Linked DNA regions of Homo sapiens. The protein of the gene in region 2 interacts with the protein of the main gene of each other region in a biochemical or structural test. Each region holds a gene or a part of one and is shown on either strand. Other genes may lie near its edges.

Region 1 (7,025 bases), on a different chromosome or scaffold from region 2:
AGTATTAAAAACTCAATAGAAATAGGATTTTTGATTTGTTGTTGTTAAACATATGTAATTTAAGGTTGGTACAAACAGCAACTAAAAATGTAATACTTTTTTGTTTTTGTGCATCCCCATGAAATGTAAAGTAGTGCATAGTTATTCCACTGGAGAACTCCTGGACATATAGAAAGTCATTCGTTAGCAGTACAGGACATTTAAAACACTTATTTTACAATGGGAAATGTACAACCCCCACCCTCATTTCCCCCAGAAATTTTAGTTGCATGAGAAAGTTTAGCGGGTTGCCATGACTACAATGCTATGGGTTTTAGATCACTTAAATGTGGTTACAGGTTTATTAAATTAAAAATGTCTGAAACATTTCAGCATTCATATTTTTATACAAGAAGTTTGTGTGGTATCCATCTTCCAGTTCTCTTGGTAGTATCAGCCATTTGCTTGCTTATTTTTAAGTTTTGAGAACAAATCGCAGTAAGTTGAAGCAAATAGTGCTAACAGAACTTGTAAATTCAGCTTGGGGGGTGGTTCCTGAAAAGAGTCAAAGTAACAACCACCTACAGGTACAGTCATGAACCAGGAAAGTGCAATCCAAATGAAAAAATTCATGCTTTGCAAAAGCCAAAAATGAGGCCACTGGTGTTTTCAGAATAACACCGGTGCTTTGATGCTGACTTGCAGTAAAATCCTCCCTCTGGGTCCCGCAGCTTGGTGGCTCAGGCCGGCCACAGTCTCCACATTAGCACCCACATTGTATATGTACAGGGACATATATATTATATATATTCATATTTATAAAAAAGAAAACAAAAACAAACACCTGTCCTGATTGGTTTTTGTTAAAACATGAAAAAAAATTTTATTGTTTTAGACAAAGAGGCCACTTTTGGAAAATAATACTTTTTTTTTTTTAGTTGAATCAGGTGAAGACAGAGTTAAAATCACATAGGATTTGCATTTTTAAAAAAGGAAAGCACTAGGATTGTTGGCACTGGAGTAACTATTTACACTGAACAGAGGTTTGGCCTTTTACATAACATCGATACAATGCATTTTCCAAAGTCTGAGAAATAACAAGGTTCTGTCTCGAATGCTTCACAGAGGAGGTTCGGATTTGGGGACAAGTGTCATTAATGAGGGCCATGGAAGTTCGTCAGCTTCAGAGTCACATGCAATCTGATCCTGGGCGGTTCCGCTGCTGGGGAGCAGCTGGCTACGGAATTGAAAGCTAATGGGGAGGGGTGGGGCAGCCTCTGGGACAAGGCCTCTCTCCGCAGACCCGGGCCTTACAGGTTTTCACCAGGTTGGTACTGGGGCTCTGTCGCGGTAAAGTAGTCTTCCAGGAAGCTCTGCAAGTACTCAAAAGTGGGGCGTTCTTCAGGGTCCTTTTTCCAGCAGTGGATCATGAGCTCATGCAGAGAGATGGGGCAGTCCTGCGGGCAGGGCATCCTGTAGCCTCGCTCCACCTGCTCCAGCACCTCCCGGTTGTTCATGCCTGCAAAGACAAGCGCAGTGAGAGTGGGCACCCCGGGGATCCAGGCCCTGACCGCCGCACTTGCAGATCCCCTTTCTTCTTCTTTGCGTCTGCATGTGGCTAAAACATGCGGAGTACTCCCATCCCCCCAGGAGTCAAACCCTGCCATGCTACTCAGGAGTAAAGAAGGAGTGCAGAACTGAGACATGAAAAATTCAGAATGACTCTCAAAACATGATAAGTGAAGGAAGCCAGACACAACAGGCAACATACGGTATGATTTCATTCATGCGAAATTCTAGAAAAGGCGCAACTACATCTATAGAAAGCAGATCAGTGGCTGCCTGGGGGAGGGGAGGAATCCCTGCCAAGGGGCCAGAGGGAACTCCAAGTGGGATGGGAATGTTCTGTCAGGGTCAACGGGTCAACAAACTTTTCCTGTAAAAGGCCAGACAGTAAATATTTTTGGCTTTGCGGGTCACATATGATCCCTGTCTTCTTCTTTTTAACAACCCTTTAAAAACGTACAAAACAAACACAGGTTGGGAGCCAGACCTGCCAACCCCTGTTCTATATTATGTATGGGGTGGTGTGACTGTTTATGTTTGTCAAAACTCAATAAACTGCATCCTTAAAATTGTTGAATTTTATTGTGTGTAGATTATACTTCAATTAAACTGACAACAATATATGAATAAAGCAGACAAAAAAATCCACACAGAATGAAAGCATGCTGCCCCTTGTTTATAGCATTTATAAACTCCATTTATGAACTTCATAAATTCGTTTTCTTCATGCCTGGGCAAACTCTTAGTTCCCCACTGTTGGAGATCTGCCATCATGCCAGCGTGGCTGGGCACTGTCTGGCCCTGCAACCCCACAGTGCCCTGAGGTTTGGTGAATTTGATGGGGAGATAGACCATGTCCGGGGCCTATCTCTACTGATGACTTCAGCCAGGCCATCCATCATTTGAGGTTTTTCTGACTCTTGGGAAGCTGTTGAAACACTGGGCTGCATAGCACTAACAGAAGACAGATCGCTAACTCCTCAGAGAGTGCGGCCTCCTGCACACTGGCTGCCTTAACACTACAGGAACTACCATGCTTAGGGGGTGGCCAGTGTCCTGACCTCCTCCCAACTACTGCCAGCCACTATTCTCTAGTTTTGCTTCCCTTTTTCATTGTATCACCTTCTGCCAGCTCCCCGTCAAGCTGTGCTGTGCTTTGGTTGCTTCCTGGCCGGTGAGGCTGTCATCTGGAATCCTCCCCAGTATCTGACCCGGTTAATTTGCAGGAGCAAGAACCCGATGTCAAGCCATATAGAAACCAAGATTTCTTCCCCTATTTCCCAGGGCTACAGCCAGCAGGAGCACACACCATATGCATGGAGCTTCCTTTACTTCTAGGGGAGGTGGCGACCCGTTAGCTAGAAACTTGTCAGCACAGCCAGAGGCGCTGGGCCAGAGCACAGCCTGTCCCCCTGCAGAGGGAACACTCGGACTTCGGGGTCTGTTGCCAGTCCTCTTGGTTGTGTTGTTACTTGTGGAGCTGAGTGTATCCTGGCTCCTCCTGGCTGTCAACCACAGCCTGTCAGTCACATGTCTCTCCAGACCTTTTCAGGATGCTTTCTTATTCTCTGCCATTATCATTTCTTGAGGTAATAAAAATTCACATATTGTTTCTGCTGTACTGAAGTAGGCCTTCAATGCAATTATTGTAAAATAACCTCACTCACGTGTCAGGGCGACCCCTTATTTTAGGGAGAGAGGTTTGGTGAAGGAGTCAGGGTCCCTGCCTCTGTGCCATGCATGCCTTTACCAGCGACTTCCTCAGTTGCATGGGAGGAGTGAGAGGCAGCGCTGTGGCTAATTAGCCTACATCCTCCTCCAATGGCTGAAAATGGGGGATGGGGGCGGGGAGCTGGAAGCAAGGGAGGAACTGGAGCATGCTCGGGAATGAAAGGCAGCCTCCTCCGGCTCTAGATAAACGCGGACAGAGGCCAGCATTTCCTTCTCCACAATTCCACCATCCAACGAGCTCTGAACACCATCAAGTTTTTGTAACTCACTTGACTACAGAACTGATCTGAACTGACCTCATCTGGCCACAAAACCTGAACTGATTACGAGGCTATTTACTGTTTTTATTTCTTCATACATATTGCCCAGAAAGATTAGGAAGAGTGTGTAATCACGTAGCAGAACTGGCACTCTCCAAAGCATTTGCCTTGCCGCATCTTTTAGTACTGTCCTTGGTTTCATATTTCAGCAATGACAGAGCTTGGACCAGCAGAAATCTCCCTTGTCTCTGTCCCTTCCAGGAGTCCACAGGAACTGAGGGGAAACAGGCAGAAGGGCCTGACAGATCCTTCTGGGTGCGGTTACAGCCCCTGAAACGCCTCCTAATGCTTGACTCTGGCTCTGAGTGCCTCCCTCCAAAATGGCAGCACAGAGTTTAATTAATCACTCTCCTATTGCTCCACAGAGCGCATGTCAGTACATGTTTCATTTCATTAAAAAACAAACTACTCAAATGGAAAGATTTCACTTAAAAAAAAAGTTTTCATCCAATGTCTGCCAATGGAAAGTTTAATTGGCCACTGGGTCATTTTTCCAGTGCTCGGTCCAAGCCTCAGACACAGCACACTTGGTGATGTGAACCTCAACATGTAGCGTCTCCCGAGGCAGTCTTTCCTGGGCATTTGGAGCCAGGGGACAGGGCATAAGCTGGCCCATGCAGGGTCCTGGCAGACCCACATGGTCAGGCTCCTTCTCGCTCTCCCCTTTCCTGTCTGCACCCCTCCGCTCTTCCCCACTCCTCTTCTTCTCCTGCTTTCTTCTGCCCAGACCTCTCAAAGCAAGGGGAGTATATGAAAACAATTCCACGCACTGGGCCAAGTGGAAACATACCAATGAGGGCTTTGCCAGGAAAGTGGGATATTTTGACAATGCACTTGGCTGACAATGACAATTGGAATGGGACTAGCTCTTTTCCAACCATCCATAAACCAGGACCTGCAACGGGCTGACCTGCAGACCTGGCAACTTCACAATGTACCTCTGCAACAATAACGGTGGCAATCAAGATATGCCCACTCAGCAAGGCTTGGGCTAGTTTTTATTTTATAAACAATAGCTAAATTGAATGGATTGTGTTAATTCAGGGTGAGTATCCCTTCTCTGAAATGCTTATGATCAGGAGTGTTTTAAATTTCAGATTTTTTAGGATTTTGAAATATTTGCATTATAGGGCTGCTCAACCAGTAAGTTGAGCATTCCCTTTGCGTGTTATGTCAGTGCTCAAGAAGCTCCAGATTTTGGTGCATTTTGAATTTCATATTTTTGGATTAGGGATACTTAACCTGTATTTAAAATACAGTATTCTCAGCTATATGAATTTTGAAAATCATGGTTTTTTTAAATAATTTTTTTTAAATGGCTTTTACTCTGCACACTAACAAAAAGATAGGTCTACTTCATTTTTTTCTTCTTAGATGGTTTCATATTTTTGTTAGAAAGAAAACTGTCATTTCCTCTTTTTAGCCACTTTTCCCCAAGACATTGGCTTTACCTAATACCTGAGAGGTGAAGGATAGTGAATAGGAAGGGAATAAACACGAGTTTGGGCACCAGGGCAGTTGGGAGAGTGTCTTGAGAGACATGGGTACACTAGAGAGAGGAATCCTTTTATTTTTTATTTATTTATTTTTTTTTGAGATGAAGCGTGGCTCTGTCATCTGGGGTGGAGTGCAGTGGTGTGATCTCGGCTCACTGCAGCCTCCACCTCCCAGGTTCAAGCAATTCTCCTGTCTCAGCCTCCTGAGTAGCTGGGACTACAGGTGCATGCCACTACACCTGGCTAATTTTTTATATTTTTAGTAGAGACAGGGTTTCACTATGTTGGCCAGGCTGGTCTTGAATTCTTGGCTTCAAGTGATCTGCCCACCTCGGCCTCCCAAAGTGCTGGGATTACAGGTGTGAGCCACCATGCCCAGCCAGAAGAATCTTTTTATTACACTTCCAACTGAGGAGGTGGACAAGAGTGCTGGAAATGTTTTTCCTTTTTCTCCTTTTTTTTTTTTTTTTTTTTTTTTGAGACAGAGTCTCGCTCTGTTGCCCAGGCTGGAGTGCAGTGGCACAATCTCGGCTCACTGCAACCTCCACCTCCCTGGTTCAAGCAATTCTCATGCCTCAGCCTCCTGAGTAGCTGGGATCCTTTTTCTCCTTTCTTAACAGAAAGAAGAGACAGAAACTTTATAAAACATGGTGTCTGAGCACATTTTAGGGAAACAATGTCATAAACAGTTTGGCCTTCCAGGTTTCCTAGTGGGAGCTGCAAGGGAGAGCATTTTTCAACAGGAGGGGAGATCCTGGCTGGCCAGTGGTGTCTGACTGTGGGAAGAGCCACGTTCGAGCAGTATGAATGTTCCCTGGTTCCCACAGAGAGGCGGCTTGGGGCTGGGGAGCCAGCAAGCACAGAGGCCACTGCCCAATTTTGTTCCAACCCTCTCCTCCTCTGCTGTTCTGCCCTTCTAGCCTCACGGGAGCCACCAGCCCCTTCTGCTGTCTCTCTAGAATTGCTCAGGAAAACAGGCCATTGTGGTGGGTCACTTTCATAGGGTACAACTGAACAGTACTCAATCCATAAAACACCTCCAGCACTTCGGGAAGCTGAGGCAGGCAGACCGCTTGAGCTCAGGAGTTCGAGACCAGCGTGGGCAACATGTTAAAACCCTGTCTGTACAAAAAGTACAAAAATTACCTGGGCATGGTGGCATGTACCTGTGGTCCCAGCTGTTCAGGAGGCTGAGGTGGAAAGATTGCTTGAGCCCAGGAGGTTGAGGCTGTAGTGAGCTGAAATGGTGCCACTGCACTCCAGCCTGGGTGACAGAGCGAGACCTTACTAGTCCGCTGTGTGGGGGTCTGCCTTCGAGTCCCTCTTTCCCAGAGCCTCCATGGAACATCTCCTTGTCAACTCAGATTTTAGGCTTTCAAACATGGTCCCCGACATAGCATCATTTCCAGTCAGTCTGCCCCAAACACTGCAACTGAGATTCTCCAGCCAAGAAGACTGTGCTCACTTCCTGCCATTATGATTATATTATCCTTTCTAAATCATGTTGCTGGCTTCCTCCAGCAAACTCAGAGGTCAAGTTTCCAACTCTCACTTTCAAACTCTGACTCTGTAGGGTTGCCAACAGTGTCTATTCTTGTGTGTGTGTTTTCTTTTCCCTTTTCTTTTAAACTTCCCTATTCCACTTCTTTGAGCTGTACATGAACTCAGTAGTCTTCCCTTTTTCCTTTTAGATTCTTTGAAAAAAAATTTTTTAAGGGACAAGGTCTTGCTCTGTCACCCAGCCTGGAGTGCAGTGGCATGATCATGGCTCACTGCAGCCTTGAACTCCTGGGCTCAAGCGATCCTCCTCACACTTCAGTCTCCCAAGCAGCTAGGACTATAGGTATGCACCACCATGCCTGGCTGATTTTTATTTTTATTTATTTTTTTTTTGTAGAGATAGCATCTTGCTATGTTGCCCAGGCTGATCTTG
Region 2 (7,025 bases):
CAGAATGCAGGCAGGTCTGGCCCTGCAGGAAAGTCCCTGCCCAGGGTCAGCCCCAGCCAAGAGCTCCACGTGCTATCCCATGAGATCTGAGCCTGTTCCATCTTCCCTTCCTTCTCAAAGCCAGTCATCCCAGCTGATTCAGAAGGGGAGCTGGATGAGGTTCTCCAGATCCTCTTTTTCCCCATGATAAGCCAATGTCTCCTCTGGAGGAAACCATGAACTGTGCCAACGCGTCTGTCTGCCACTGTCCTCGGGTCCTCATTCTGAGGAATGATCTGGATTCAGCTTTTCATTAAAGACCAAACATCCTTGTACATTTGGAACATGAAAGATATTTAAAATATTTATATATATATAATATATATATATACTTTTATTATTCACCCGTTAACTCCATTATATGCCAATCACGAGCTAGTTTTCAGCAGTTACATTCCCTTGATCACGGCTGCATGAGGATGTAATTAACTGGAAAACACGGAGACCAGAGACACGACCGGAGGTGACGTCACGCAGCCCACGCCATCGCAATACAATTGTCAAGTTCGCTGGCGGTTTGGTAAAGCCGGTTCAGTTCTGCTCCCTTTGCCAGGGATTCTCACGTGTGTGAAAATTGGACCAACAGTGGTGGGGTTCCATTTCCTGGTTCGAATTTTCAGTGGCTTTATCCAGAATCGCACTGGTGACTGGTTATTGTAGCACCAGTCCAACCTAGGAAAGCCAACAGGGAGAGGCAGAGCTGAGTTGACAGTGGCCCAAAGACTCTCCCACACCCCCTATCCCTGAAGTTCCGAGTGGCTGGGCCCGGGTCCACCGCCTGTGCTGTGGGAGCAGACTCACACCCAGCCGGCCCCACACTCAACCTCCACACCAGGGTTCACACGTCCATCAGACCTCCCAGGGAAAACTGGCCCACGCTCCAGCTCACCCCTATGTCCCCTGTGGCACTGGGGGAGGAAGGGCTAAGAAAGTGTCATGCCAGAAGAGGGCAGCAGCTCAGGAGAGGAAACCTCCTCAGAGTTCCCCCAGCCCTACCCTCCTGGCAAACCGTGGGCAACTCAACTTCCACGGTTCCCTCACGTGGGAAGGCCTCATTGGAGATGATCTTCGTGCTACTGTGTGGCTCTGTCCCCTCTGCCATCCTCACACCAGTTGCTGAGAGGGGAACGCTGACCTGCTGGTCTGGCCAGCAGAGGGAGGGCATTTTCAAAGGTTCAACTCGAGGTAACAAGGACCCAGACTGCGGCTGTCTCCTCAACCCATGGCCCGGTTTCTGCTGGAGACATGGACACCCTGGGCCGGGCAGCCTGGACTCTGGCTATGTGTCGCCTACCTTCTCTGCCCCCATGCTGGGGCATTTCCAATTGTAAAGGTAATACTGCAGGTTGCCGTCCCCTATGCCAAACTTGAGCTTCTCCAGGAAGGTTTTGTTCTCCATGAGATCCAGTGCATTGAACACATCAAACCCTTTCTGCAAAGCAGCAGGGACAAACAAGAACAGGTGAGGACAGGTGGGGACAGCCTCCTTCCTACCCCTTTGCTGCCATTTCAAAGCTGTCCTGTGGGCAGCCACAAGAACAAGGTTCCCTCAGAAGCTCCGCTGCTTCCACGTTAATCCCCGCTCTCCGGGTGGTTCTCAGGACACTCTGAGCGCCCCCTCCAGCCTGGCCTCTGCCCAGTGTCCCTCAGAGTGTACACATATGTACTCAGTGTCCAGGCCGGGGCTCTTGCTATTCCTGGTTATGCCTCCCTGAAACTCTAGTAATTTCCACAGTCCTCTCTGGAGTCCAAACCCTGAGCCCATTCCTCTGAGAAGCTGGCTCTGGTCAGCTACATGGGGTTTGTGTTGCTTCCTTACTCCATGGATGCCCCAACTCTCAGGCCCTCAGTGCACCTCATGTTGTATGACACCTGCTGTGTTGCTTGGAGACTGTGAAGATGCTTCCTAAACCTCACCAACTGGAGCAGAAGCTCTCACAGGGCAGGGACCAGATTGCCTACAGCAGGCTGGGCTGGGCTGGGCACAGGTTACCAGAACCCACAGCAAAGCACTGACAGACGGGCTCGCCATCCGCTACTGGCAGTTGGATGCTCCAATGACTCACCACGACAGACAGCAATCACCCCTTTCCCACGCTGGGAAAGCTGTGAGGAGAAGCCCTGTCCTCCCAGGGAAGGCCTGGCTATTCAGGCTCCTTGGTGGCGCCTCCTGTGAGAACGAAACTCACTGAAATGAATCAGGAGGAGTTCAATGCCTTCACTTCGGATGCTCCTTGTTCCCTCCAAGTTTTGAGTTTCTGCCTAAAAACTGCGGGAACCCTGCCTAAGCAGAACAGATGAGGAGGGCTCAGAGCCTCCAGCCCATGGGAGGCTGCGTCCCGGGAGCTGTGCTCACCATGGCTCCACTGCCTCTTCCCTGCACATCTCCAGAGACCCCCCCGTCTGCTCCTCACCATTTTGGCGAGGACAAGGGCGTCGCTCATGAGGTCTAGAAGAGGGGTCTGGGTGTGAACGTTGTAGAAAGAATAAGCAGCTTTGAGACTCTTGTGGGTTGGATGGTTCATGATGGTGGAGGGCAGCGTATAAAAGCTCAGGAAATCTGTCACCTCTCCGTTTGCGTTCTGAAGGGAAGGCAATAAAGAGGCAATGTCAAGCATGCACAGTGGCACTGCGGCCCGGGAACAAAATGTTTCTCTCACTCCACCTTCAGGCAGCTCTGCCCCTCTAGATAAATGGCTGGAAACTGCAACAGGACATGTGGGGAGGAGGAGGGACATTGGCTCAGGGCACTTGAGGACAGAGCCGTGATCGTGGGCTGAACCTGCCAGACCTCTTTCCCAGCATGGGCACCGCCAGGGACCTCTTCTTGCAGCTCACATCCCCCCAGACTGTGTCTCCTATGTCTGGTCAGCACTGGGTTAAGCTGGGACAGGCAGGGAATTGCAGGCTTTCCTGAAGGATTAAGCGGGGCTCAGTTCTCTCTATTTTGTGTTATCAAAGTGGGGCAGAGGGGGAGAAGGGCTCAAGCCAGATCCAGAGGTATCTTTTCAGCAAATTCAAGCACCAACTCCCTGTTTTTAGGGAGGACCAAACACGGATGGTCAAGGAAGTCTAAGGTGCCAACACTCGAGCCCTGGGAACCCGGCCACTCAGGGGGGTGCCTCTCTGGGAACGTGTTAGAGACCTGGAACACCACTCCCTGACTCACCTCCACCACGAAAGTGTCGATGATATTCTCCTGGGGGTAGAACCAGTGCTCCACCTCCTCCTGGCTCATGACGGGCGTAAGGTGAAATTGCTTCAAGTACCTGGTGAGGAGCTGGTGCACTACTGGAATGTCCTTTGTTTCCATTGGTCGCAGCCCAGCTGTCTTGGGAGTCTGGAGGCAAGACAGAAGAGATGGAGTGAGATGAGCTGATCACCCTGGATCTATCCATGGCAAGGACAGATCAGGCCCTCAAGAGAGAATCCCTGGTCATTCGGCGGCTCCCTGCACCCCCGTGCATATCTCCTCAGGCACAGGGCCTGCCTCTTCCGTATCTTCTGGCCCTTTCCCTCCTAGTCCAGGCAGACTCAGACTGCTACATCAATCAACCATCTACATGGCCCCAGGCTGACTCCCTAAGAAAACACAACCCTTCATGCTCCACCCTTGTTTCAAACTCCCCACCCCAGAAGACAAGAATTTCTACCCTTGGGCCAGGTTGGCCTTTCTAGCTGTACCTTCTGCCCACGCAGCCCAACAGTCCTCACAGGCTTCTCACTGAACTGTGACTGATGCCATCCCACACTCACTGCTCTTTCTCTGCTAGACTTAGAGCACTTCGCGGACAGACCCCAGGGCCCAGCCAGGGTCTGCCCACCCAGACACTATTACACCAGTACTTCCCAGAGAGACACGGCTGTGGGTTACATTCAGAAGAAAAGCAGCATACTCCCAGGATTTTATCCCCAGTCAGCGTCCCACCCGGCAGCTGCTTTTGCTAGAAAAATGCTTCAGTGGAATGAAACCATGTGATCCTGTGGAGCAAATACCGGGGCTGGTAGAACATCCCCAGAGGCTCAGATACACAAAGGTGGCCTTGGGGCAATCTGCAAACAGGGTGGTGTCACAGTTTACAGGCCTCAGTCAGTGCCTGACACAATGCTTCCCAGTGCAGGAATTGCTTTTAAAACTTCAGTTCTAGAACCTCCAGCCTCTAAAATTCCTTGCTAAATCCTCGTCTCTTTAGGGGAACGCTCAATGACCTCATTCTACATGGCAGCTCCCACAATGATACCTCAAATCCTGGACTGAAAACACAGCCATGCTGGGGTTTCCACCCAGACATGGGTGAGACATTCTTCTGCTGCTGCAGCACTCTAAGAATGCTCTCTGCCTGCCTGCCCACCGGCCTAGAACGCAAGGCAGATCTGTCATGAGAACAGAAGGGAGAAGACACATACCACAGTCCCCCAAGCCTGTGCTTTTGGCAGTGTCTAACGGTACTGCAGCAGTCTCTCAAGATGGGACACTAATGACCCCAATCACTAGGTGGATTAGCCTGATTTCAGAGTGATCAATCCTGTTTAGAGGCTGAGGAGTCCAGGCAGGCAGCCTCATGTCAGCAGGAACGCAGTGACTGTGTGCACTGATGACCAATAGGAAGAAGCACTCCGAGGAAAGAGAAGAGATTTTTTCTTTCTTTCCTTTTTTTTTTTTTTTTTTTTTTGCGACGGAGTCTTGCTCTGTCGCCAGGCTGGAGTCCAATGGTGCGATCTCGGCTCGCTGCAACCTCTGCCTCCCAGGTTCAAGCAACTCTGCTGCCTCAGCTTCCCAAGTAGCTGGGATTACAGGCACATACCACACCCAGCTAATTTTTGTGTTTTTAGTAGAGACAGGGTTTCACCATGTTGGCAGGATGGTCTCAATCTCTTGACCTCGTGATCCACCCGCCTTGTCCTGCCAAAGTGCTGGGATTACAGGCGTGAGCCACCGCCCACCTGAGAAGGGATTTTAAGAATCCCTACTGGGATGGGCACAGTGGCTCATGCCTGTAATCCCAGCACTTTGAGAGGCTGAGGTGGGTGGATCACTTGAGCCCAGGAATTCAGATGAGCCTGGGCAACATGGCAAAATCCTTTTTTTGTTGTTGTTGTTTTTTTTGAGATGGAGTCTCGCTCTGTGGGCCAGGCTGGAGTGCAATGGCGCTATCTCAGCTCACTGCAAGCTCCGCCTCCCGGGTTCACGCCATTCTCCTGCCTCAGCCTCCCGAGTAGCTGGGACTACAGGCGCCCACCACCAAGCCCGGCTAATTTTTTTTTGTATTTTTAGTAGAGACGGGGTTTCACCATGTTAGCCAGGATGGTCTCGATCTCCTGACCTCGTGATCCACTCGCCTAGGCCTCCCAAAGTGCTGGGATTACAGGTGTGAGCCACCGCGCCTGGCCTTCTTTTTTTTTTTTTTTTTTTTTTTTTTTTTTTTTTGAGACGGAGTCTTGCTCTGTTGCCTAGGTTGGAGTGCAGTGGTGCGATCTTGGCTCACTGCAAGCTCCGCCTCCCAGGTTCATGCCATTCTCCTGCCTCAGCCTCCCAAGTAGCTGGGACTACAGGTGCCCGCCACGCCACGACCAGCTAATTTTTTGTATTTTTATTAGAGACAGGGTTTCACCGTGTTGGCCAGGATGGTCTCGATCTCCTGACCTCGTGATCCGCCTGCCTTGGCCTCCCAAAGTGCTGGGATTACAGGCGTGAGCCACCACGCCCAGGCTTCTTTTATTTTGAGACGGAGTCTCGCTCTGTCGCCTAGGCTGGAGTGCAATGACGTGATCTTGGCTCACTGCAAGCTCCACCTCCCGGGTCCATGCCATTCTCCTGCCTCAGCCTCCCAAGTAGCTGGGACTACAGGCACCCACCACACCACGACTGGCTAATTTTTTATATTTTTACTAGAGACGGGGTTTCACCGTGTTAGCCAGGATGGTCTTGATCTCCTGATCTCGTGATCTGCCCACCTCAGCCTCCCAAAGTGCTGGGATTACAGGCGTGAGCCACTGCGCCTGGCAGCAAAACCCCGTTTCTATAAAAACAAAAATTGGCCGGGCATGGCGGCACACGCCTGTAGTCCCAGCTACTTGGGAGGCTGAGGTGGGAGAATCAGTTGAGTCTGGGAGGTCGAGGCTGCAGTGAGCTGTGACTGTGCCACTGCACTCCAGCCTGGGCAACAGAATGAGACCCTGTCTCAAAACAAAAAAAAAAGAATCCCTACCTGAAGCCAGCCACAGTTGGAGCATTTGTTTCTTTGGGAAACTAGGAAAACTGAGACCCAGAACAGAAAAGCAGCTCACTTTAAGGTTGCCCAGTCCTTCAGCCAAATCTGGGTGGGGAAATTGGGATTAGAAATCGGGGATCCCTCACAAGCTCAGGTCACCCTTTACCTGACCCGGCAGAGGGGCGTCACAGACCCTGTAGTGCATCTGCGCTGGGCTTTGGAACGCGCTGCCGTGTGTATGAAGGTTCACTAAGTGGATTCATCATTCTATTTATGCTTTACTTAGGCTAAAATTACAGAGAATAGGTGTTCTCTGAGCCTTTCAACAGATGGCAGAGAAGCTAGTCCAGGCACAGACTCAGAGGAACTGAGAAAGTTAAACTAAAATAAAATCCTGCTTCAGATAACAGAAATAGAAAGTCCAGGAAATCTGAAGACTATGGGCTGGTTCGCTTTTCCAGTAGGAGAAAGCTCCCTCTCCACCCAGAGCCCTTCTCTCCTGCTGACAGCCAGGCTCTCCTTGCCCTCTCTCTGCCCCCTGCCCACCACCCGGGGCAGCACTGGCCTCTGGCAGTCGGTAGAGCTTCATGGTGCGCTGCATGGTCATATTTCTGCTCAGGTGGGAGAACTTCACTTCAATCAGCTTCCGTGGGTTTAGGGACCGATGCCAATACCTGTGGGGACACAAATGTCCTGTCCTCAGGGTTCTGGCCAATCCCTATTACAAGGACAATGGCAGGGAGACCCCAGCTGGCCAGCAGGTGGCGTGAGAGA
Region 3 (7,068 bases), on a different chromosome or scaffold from region 2:
GGTCAGGAGTTCGAGACCAGCCTGACTAACATGGTGAAACCCCGTCTCCACTAAAAATACAAAAATTAGCTGGGCATGGTGGCAGGTGCCTGTAATCCCAGCTACTCAGGAGGCTGAGGCAGGAGAATTGCTTGAACCCAGGAGGCAGATGTTGCAGTGAGCCGAGATAGCGCCATTGTCACTCCTGGGTGACAGAAAAAGACCCCATCTAAACAAAAAACAAAAAACAAAAAACAAACAAACAAAAAAACCAAAAAACTTCTTGGAACTTTCCTTAATTTTCCTGAACTCTTCGGTTGGGTTCAAGTCCTGGCTCCAAGGAACTTGCTGTGTGACCTTAGACAAGTCACTTAGCCATTCAGTTGCCTCATCTGCAGAATGAGGATCACAGTCCTTGCTGTGCCCACCTCCTAGAAGCTGGTGAGATTCTCCAGAGGCAGAGAGCTTGCCTTGAGAATGACCAAGGTCATGGGCTCTGGGGACAGCCTGTGCAGTCACCTGTGTACCTGGACTGCTTGGCTTCATGGGCCCAGCGGGGGCATCTGGAGGACTGGGGATGGGGATGGGTCCGAGGCACATACTGATTTGTTGTGAGATCTCGATGAGCTCCATCTCGGTGGGCATGTAGCCCAGGGTCCGCATGCAGGCACCCAGCTCCCGGCAGCCAATGTAGCCGTCCCGGTCTCGGTCAAACTCCTGGAAGGCGACCTGCAGCTCTGCCAGGCAGGGTGGGGTCAGTCCTTCCCCCACAACCCCCTGATCCTGGCCTGGACCCGCCTACCCTTCTCCCTTGGTCCAATCATCCCTCCTTCTGAACATCAGATTCTCTTTGCTGCCTCGGGGCCTTTGCACGTGCTGTTCCTGTTATTTGTTCTTTCAGCAAATATTTGAGGAGCATCTACTATGTGCCAAGCTCTGCTCTAGGCACTGGGGATACAGCAGTGAAATTTTTCAAAAAGGAAGAAAGAAAGAAAGTGGGGGAAACAAATTCTGACCTCTTGGAGATTTCCTCACTCTTCCCCTTCCTCTTTGGTCCTATGTCACCTACTAAAGGAAGCCATCCCTCTACATGTGGCCTCCCCCGGCCCATTTGTCCCTTTCCTGGAGAGCACATGCACCATTTGTACTTGTAGCTGACTAATTGACGTTGGTCTCCAGAGGGCACGGGCCATATCTGTCTAGCTGGCCATGTTTCCCAGTGCTCAGCCAGGGCCAGGCACACAGTGGGCACCCAGGAAGTGTCAGCTGAATGAACAAATATAAAAGGGGCCCTGTCACCTGCCTGGTGAGTGAGACCAAGGAATGACAGCTGGGTGGGGGTCTGTCATCCCCTCCCTGCTCAGTCTTGTCCCCATTTCCCTAAACTGGTCCCCTGCAGCCTTCTTGCTCCCACTTCCTCCTGGAAACACTGAGGCCCCCACCCGATGCCCCCCCAACCCTGTGTCCCCACCCCATGCCCCCCATGCCACCTCCCCTTCAGGGAACCAGTTCCTTCTCCAACCCTTTACCTTCAATCTCCTCGGGCCGCAGCTCCCGGTCCTGAAGGGCACAGAGGGGTTAGGAATTCCCTGCTCCTACTGATGACTGTGCCCTTCCTTCTTGCTTCCCGGGGCTCCCCACCCAGCCCCACAATCCAACACGCACACGCAGGGCCTGTGTCTGTCTGATTGCTCGGCCCTGGTTCCCACCCCATCCTACTCACTGGCCTGGGTAACCGGGTGCCCCCTTCCCTGCTTCTGGCCTAGGTCACTCCTTGGGCCGTCCTCACCTACTCCATCACCCTCTTCTGGGGCAGGGGGCTCCCTTTGCTGGTGGTGGATCTGGGGTTTGGGCAGAACCTCAGACTTGGTCCCGCCAGCCTCAATGTCACTGTTGATCTCTCTTCCATTTCTAGAGTCATTGCTCTCTCCCCTCTCTGCACCCCCACCCCAGATCTGTGTACCTTTGCTCTGATGTCCCCACTCAATCCTCTTCCCCCTAGCTCCAGGAGAGGCAAAGCGAGGGGCAAGGGTAGGTGGGCTGGAGTGCGAGGGGCAAGGGCAGGTGAGCTGGTGGGAGAGGGGCAAGGGCAGGCAGGCTGGCGGGCGGGTGGCCGTACATACGAGTTGGGTGGCGGCAATGCTGGGCCGCAGGAAGATGCAGGCAGGCCCCACCAGGCTGTTGAGCACCGAGTAGCCCTGGACGCCTGGCGCGGGGTCCCCCTGCTCCTTGGGGCTGGAGCTGGGGCTGGGGCAGGAGCCCCTTGGTGGGGAGCCGAGCCACTGCAAGGGGTCCTGCAGCAGAGCCGGCCGTGAGCTGGGGCAGTGGCCGCTGAGCTCTGGGCCTGATAGCCCTCCCCACTCCTCTCACCAGCTGCTCCTGTCTTTGGAGCCCGGCATGGGACAGTAGGGAAGGGGCTGGGGGGTAGAGAGAGGACCCTCACCCGTGAACTCTTTAGGCAGAAAGGGTCAATCCTCTAACTGTTCTGTTGGGCAAACTGAGGACCAGAAAAGGCAAGAGACTTGGCCAAGGCCACTGAGAAAGCCAGCGGCAGAGAGGGACCTTGTGCCCAGCTCTGTCTCCTAGATGGAGGCTGGCTAGCAGAGAGCGGGGACCTGCAGCCGGGATGGGGCAGCTGGACGGGCAGCTGGGGGACCTGGAGCCTGGCAGGGGAGACCCAGAGGTCGGTGGGAGCCAAGATCAGGATGGCCAGAGGCTGTGGCTTCCAGGAAAAAAATCTCCACCTGGGGCAGTGGGCAGCCCCCAACCCCGCCCGGCCCTCGGAGGGCTCTGCCCATCCCATCTGACCCTCAGGGTCCATTCCAGCCTCCTGGCCTGGGTTTCTCCCCTGACCCCTCCTACCTTAGGGCCCCGGCGCCAGGGCCGCTTGGCACAGTTCCCCATGGGCCCTGAACCATGCCAGGCCTGGAACCCCGGGGGTGGCCCGGGTGGGCCTCGGCGGATGCTGCTGCCTGAGGACTCCTGCCAGCCCCCAGCTGCTCCCGATGAGAGCCTGGGAGTACTGCCGGGGATTTTCCTGGGGTTTTGTGGGGAAGATCGGGGGCGGGTGGGCAGGCGGGGGACTTGGGCCTGGGGCTTGGGTCCTAATCCGGGATTATCTTTGAGCGTCTCCGCTGCTGAGGGGAGCCACTTGGGCCCAAGGCCCCCTGGAGAGCACAGCCTCCCCAGACTGCCTCCTGAGGGTCTTCCAGACGCCCCTTCTCCAGCACCCTCCCCCAACCCCTGCCTCTAATCTCTCCCAATCAGGGGAGATTTAATGTCTTCAGAAGCAGGGCCTGGGTCCCAGGAGGAGGAAGGCAGGCGTGCAGTGTGCCAGGGTGGGCTGGGCCCTCCGAATGGCACAGATTCCGGTTGGTATGGACACGCGGGCCTTCCCACACAGCCTCCCAGAAAGAGGCAGCCACTTGGCTCAGCCCAGGAAGCCCCTGCCTCTCCCTGCCAGGACCCCAGCTGGGCCCTGGGCTCCTCACCTCGGGGTAGCCCCAATTGCTTGCACTTGGCTCCCCCTGCCTGGACTGGTGCCCCGCCCTTGGATGAGGAGCAGAAGGGAACCGCCTATGTGCTGTGGGCAGTGACAGGGCTCGGTGAGGGTGGAGATTGGGAAGGGAAGCCACCCCGGCCCTGCCGACCTCAGAGAGTCTCCCATTGGACTCTGCCTCCTGGTCCCCTCCCTGGACTAAGTCCTGGGTCTGTCCTCCGGGGCCCCCAGTTGGGGTGTGGGGTCCCTGCTCTTTGTTCCTGGTCCCCTCATACCCCTGCCCGCATTACCTGCCCGTAGGCTGCCTGCACCTGGGCCTCGAGCTCCCGGAGAAGCTCTCGTCGCCGGGTGGCTGCTGGGCTGCCAGGGGCCTGGCTGGTTCCTGGAGTGCCCTCAGAGGGGCTGGGGTCCCCCGTTGGGAGGCTGCCCTCTGCTGGGCCCTGGGGCTGGGCCATGGAGATGAGGGCTTGGTACCTCCTCCTGGCTGAGGGACGCTGCTCCGTCCGGCCTCCCCAGTCCTGCGGGAGAGTGGTCTTGTGGGCAGCCACAGGTGTGGCCTGGGTCCCTGCTACTCTTCTTTCTGTCCCTTCCTCCATAAACTGGGAGAGCCCCGTGTCCCCAGAGTCTTGTATCCTCCCTAGCTCCCCGTGGCCCCTCGTGTGGCCCTGTCAGCCTGGTGAAGCCCCTCATGCTGGTCACAGACTGTGCCCGGGGCTCCACCTGATCATCCTTGTGGCCCCAGTGGTCGGCCCTCCTGCCTGCCTTTGGCCTCCTCCCCCGCAGTGTTCTGCCTGCATCTCTCTGGCTCACGCGCACCTGATGCCCCACACACCTCCTTGCTCAGTTTCCATCTCACCGCCTGCCCCTCTGTGCCCCCTCTGCCTCTGTGTCTGTTTTGCCTGCAGCCCCGTCTCCATCCCCTCTGACTCGCCGCCATCTCTGTCAGTCTGGATCCAGTGGTGTCTCTGCCGTCTCTGACCCACTCAGCCCATCTCTCTGCTGGCTCCTTCCCTCTGTTGCTGCAAGGTCCTTTCTTGCATTGGTCTTTCTGTCTGTCCTTCCTTGCTCTTCCTATTCTCCCCACCATCCCGCTCCCAGGAGAGCTCCAGAATTCTGGAAAGGCCTTCCCCATCTCCCCAGCCCAGAGCCCTAGGGTCCGTCTGTGCTGCCCACCTCCCTGCCTCCCTCCCTCCTCCCCAGGGTCCCTCTGTGCTGCCCCCTCCTTCCCTCCCTCCTCCCCAGGGTCCCTCTGTGCTAGCCCCCTCCTTCCCTCCCTCCTCCCCAGGGTCCCTCTGTGCTAGCCCCCTCTCCTCCCCAGGGTCCCTCTGCATTGCCCACCTCCCTGCGTTCTGCCAGGACCTCCACCTGGTCCTGCTGACCTTCAACCTCTTGCTTCTCAAGGAAAAGGGGTGGAGGTGGGCCGGGCAGCCCCTGCTGGCCTCTCAGGCTTCCTTGCCATGACCCCAGCCCACTCCCCACCCAGCTGCCCGCTCTTCAACTCCCAGAATGAGGTCATCATCCTGCCCCGGCTCCATTCCAGGCCCCTCATGATTTATTCATCTGTCCCCCACACTGGCCTTTGTCTAAGGGAACCAGATCCCACTAGGTGCTGCCACCTGAGCTGGTGGCTCTGGCCTCTCTCAGCCACATGCGGCCATCTATTCATGTATTCCCTCAGCAAACAGCTGAGGCTGGCTGGGCCAGCTTCTGGGGCTATGTGACAGACCCCATCTGTCCAGAGAAGCCCACTCTCAGGCATGTCTAACCAGGAAAAGAGCCACCAGACAGTCTCCAAGTACTTGGGGTCCTTGGCCCAGGCATCAGGGAGGCTTCATGGAGGAGGTGAGGGGATAAGGCAATGCTGCAGGCATTGCCTATCAATGTTTAACCTGTGCCTGGCCCTGGGAGAGAGCCAGGGTCCCTGGCACGGATCAGCCTTGAACTTGGAGTGCCCCAGGAGCTGGAACCTGGCAGGTGGGTTGGATGGAGGCCCTTGGGAGGGAGGAAGGGGCTAGTGGCCTCTGGAGAGGGTATAGGTGGCAGGAGGTCAGAGAAAATTTTTGAGAGGCTGAATCTGCAGCAAACGTTTGTCCGGCCCCTGCTCTGTACCTTCCTGGGTGCTGGAACTAGTCCCTACATCCTGGAACCTTTCACCTGCTGGGAGATGCCTATTCAGCAAACCAGAATGACAGTGGCCAGGGAAGTGCAGGAAGGGCCAAGGTTCTCAGGAGGGAGGACTTGGCCGGGCGTGGTGGCTCACGCCTGTAATCCCAACACCATGGGAGGCCAAGGCAGGCGCATCATTTGAGGTCAGGAATTTGAGATCATCCTGGCCAACATGGCAAAACCCCATCTCTACTAAAAATACAAAAATTAGCTGGCGTGGTGGCGCATGCCTGTAATACCAGCTACTCGGGAGGCTGGGGTATGAGAATCACTTGAACCTGGGAGGTGGAGGTTGCAGTGAGCCGAGATCGCCCCACTGCACTCCAGCCTGGGTGACAGACTGAGACTCTGTCTTGAAAGAAAGAAAGAAAAAAAAAAAAAAGAGGGAGGGCCTTGCTTGATGGGGTTGAGGAACTGACATGCTAGCCAAGAGCAGAGGATGATGGGAATGGCTGAGCAAAGGGAGGGGGTGGCCTCACAGACAGAGGAAAGCCTCCACATCTGAGGACAGGCCGGGGTTGAGAAGTGAGTGGAAAGGCTGGTTGTGATCATTCCCATTGCTTCAGCCTTCAGTGTCCTTCAGTCCCACCTCTGCACATGGAGAGCAGGAGCGGCCTGGTTTCCCAGGCGGTAACGTCTCTGAAAACATTCATCGGAGACAGAAATTCTCCTCTGCAAGACCACAGAAAGGGCCGGCAGGCCTAGGTTCCCCCATGCACACACCGTGTCACCCTGGGAAAGGTATGTCACCTCTTTGAGCCTCAGTTTCGTCATCTGAAAAGTGGAGGTTGACCTAGCATCTGCCTCCCAGTGCCATTGTGGAAATTAGATGACAGGACCTGGCAGGTTCCTGGCACATAGGAAGGTGCAGAACGTGGTGGGCACCACACGTGATGAATGGTCTAAAGAACCATCTTTGAAAGTGGAAAATGGTGAGAAATGTATGTCCCAAAGTATAATCCAAAACAGTGGGGTCTGTAACCACTCAGAGTATAGGGGGTAAAAAAGTTTTCAGTCAGGGAGCAAAGGCCTTGTGTCTAAGTGGAGGAGAAAGCCTGGCTTGGAGATCCCCCTGCTTGTGTTCAATCAGCAGCATCCTGGAGCTCTCATCTTGGTGCCCTCAACTTGCCCAGCCTGACTTAGCCAAGCTGGGGTCCTGGCTCCAGTGTCCAGGATGGGTGGATCAGGGGTTTGACTAATGGGTAGACAGAGGGAAGGATGGGTAGAAGGATGGTTGGTTGGGTAAAATGGGTGGTTGGATGGATGGGTGGATAATTTGATGAACTGGTGTTTAAATGGACAGATGGATGGATAGATGAATGGATGGACCGGAGGATGGATAGTTGGGTTAGTAGATGAGAAGTTGGATGGATGGACAGGTGAATGGCTGGCTGGCTGGAAGGATGGGTAGGTGATTTGATGGG

Evidence for each region. Proteins that work in one complex are often made in the same cells at the same time.
Region 1: of the proteins of NMT1 (region 2) and FYN, one has a biochemical effect on the other in vitro, tested with the Homo sapiens proteins (one study listed by BioGRID).
Region 3: of the proteins of NMT1 (region 2) and CABP2, one has a biochemical effect on the other in vitro, tested with the Homo sapiens proteins (one study listed by BioGRID).

What each region holds. Positions count from the first base shown.
Region 1 is NC_000006.12:111,660,450-111,667,474, forward strand, and holds part of FYN (tyrosine-protein kinase Fyn), read right to left. Parts: intron 1,499-7,025; coding exon 1,290-1,498; 3' UTR 1-1,289. UniProt on the Homo sapiens protein: Non-receptor tyrosine-protein kinase that plays a role in many biological processes including regulation of cell growth and survival, cell adhesion, integrin-mediated signaling, cytoskeletal remodeling, cell motility, immune response and axon guidance.
Region 2 is NC_000017.11:45,099,305-45,106,329, reverse strand, and holds part of NMT1 (glycylpeptide N-tetradecanoyltransferase 1), read right to left. Parts: intron 6,926-7,025; coding exon 6,817-6,925; intron 3,380-6,816; coding exon 3,209-3,379; intron 2,622-3,208; coding exon 2,454-2,621; intron 1,472-2,453; coding exon 1,334-1,471; intron 712-1,333; coding exon 691-711; 3' UTR 1-690.
Region 3 is NC_000011.10:67,520,444-67,527,511, forward strand, and holds the start of CABP2 (calcium-binding protein 2), read right to left. Parts: upstream 3,004-7,068; 5' UTR 2,898-3,003; coding exon of another isoform or gene 2,884-2,897; coding exon 2,842-2,883; intron 2,274-2,841; coding exon 2,103-2,273; coding exon of another isoform or gene 2,099-2,102; intron 1,540-2,098; coding exon 1,509-1,539; intron 717-1,508; coding exon 582-716; intron 1-581.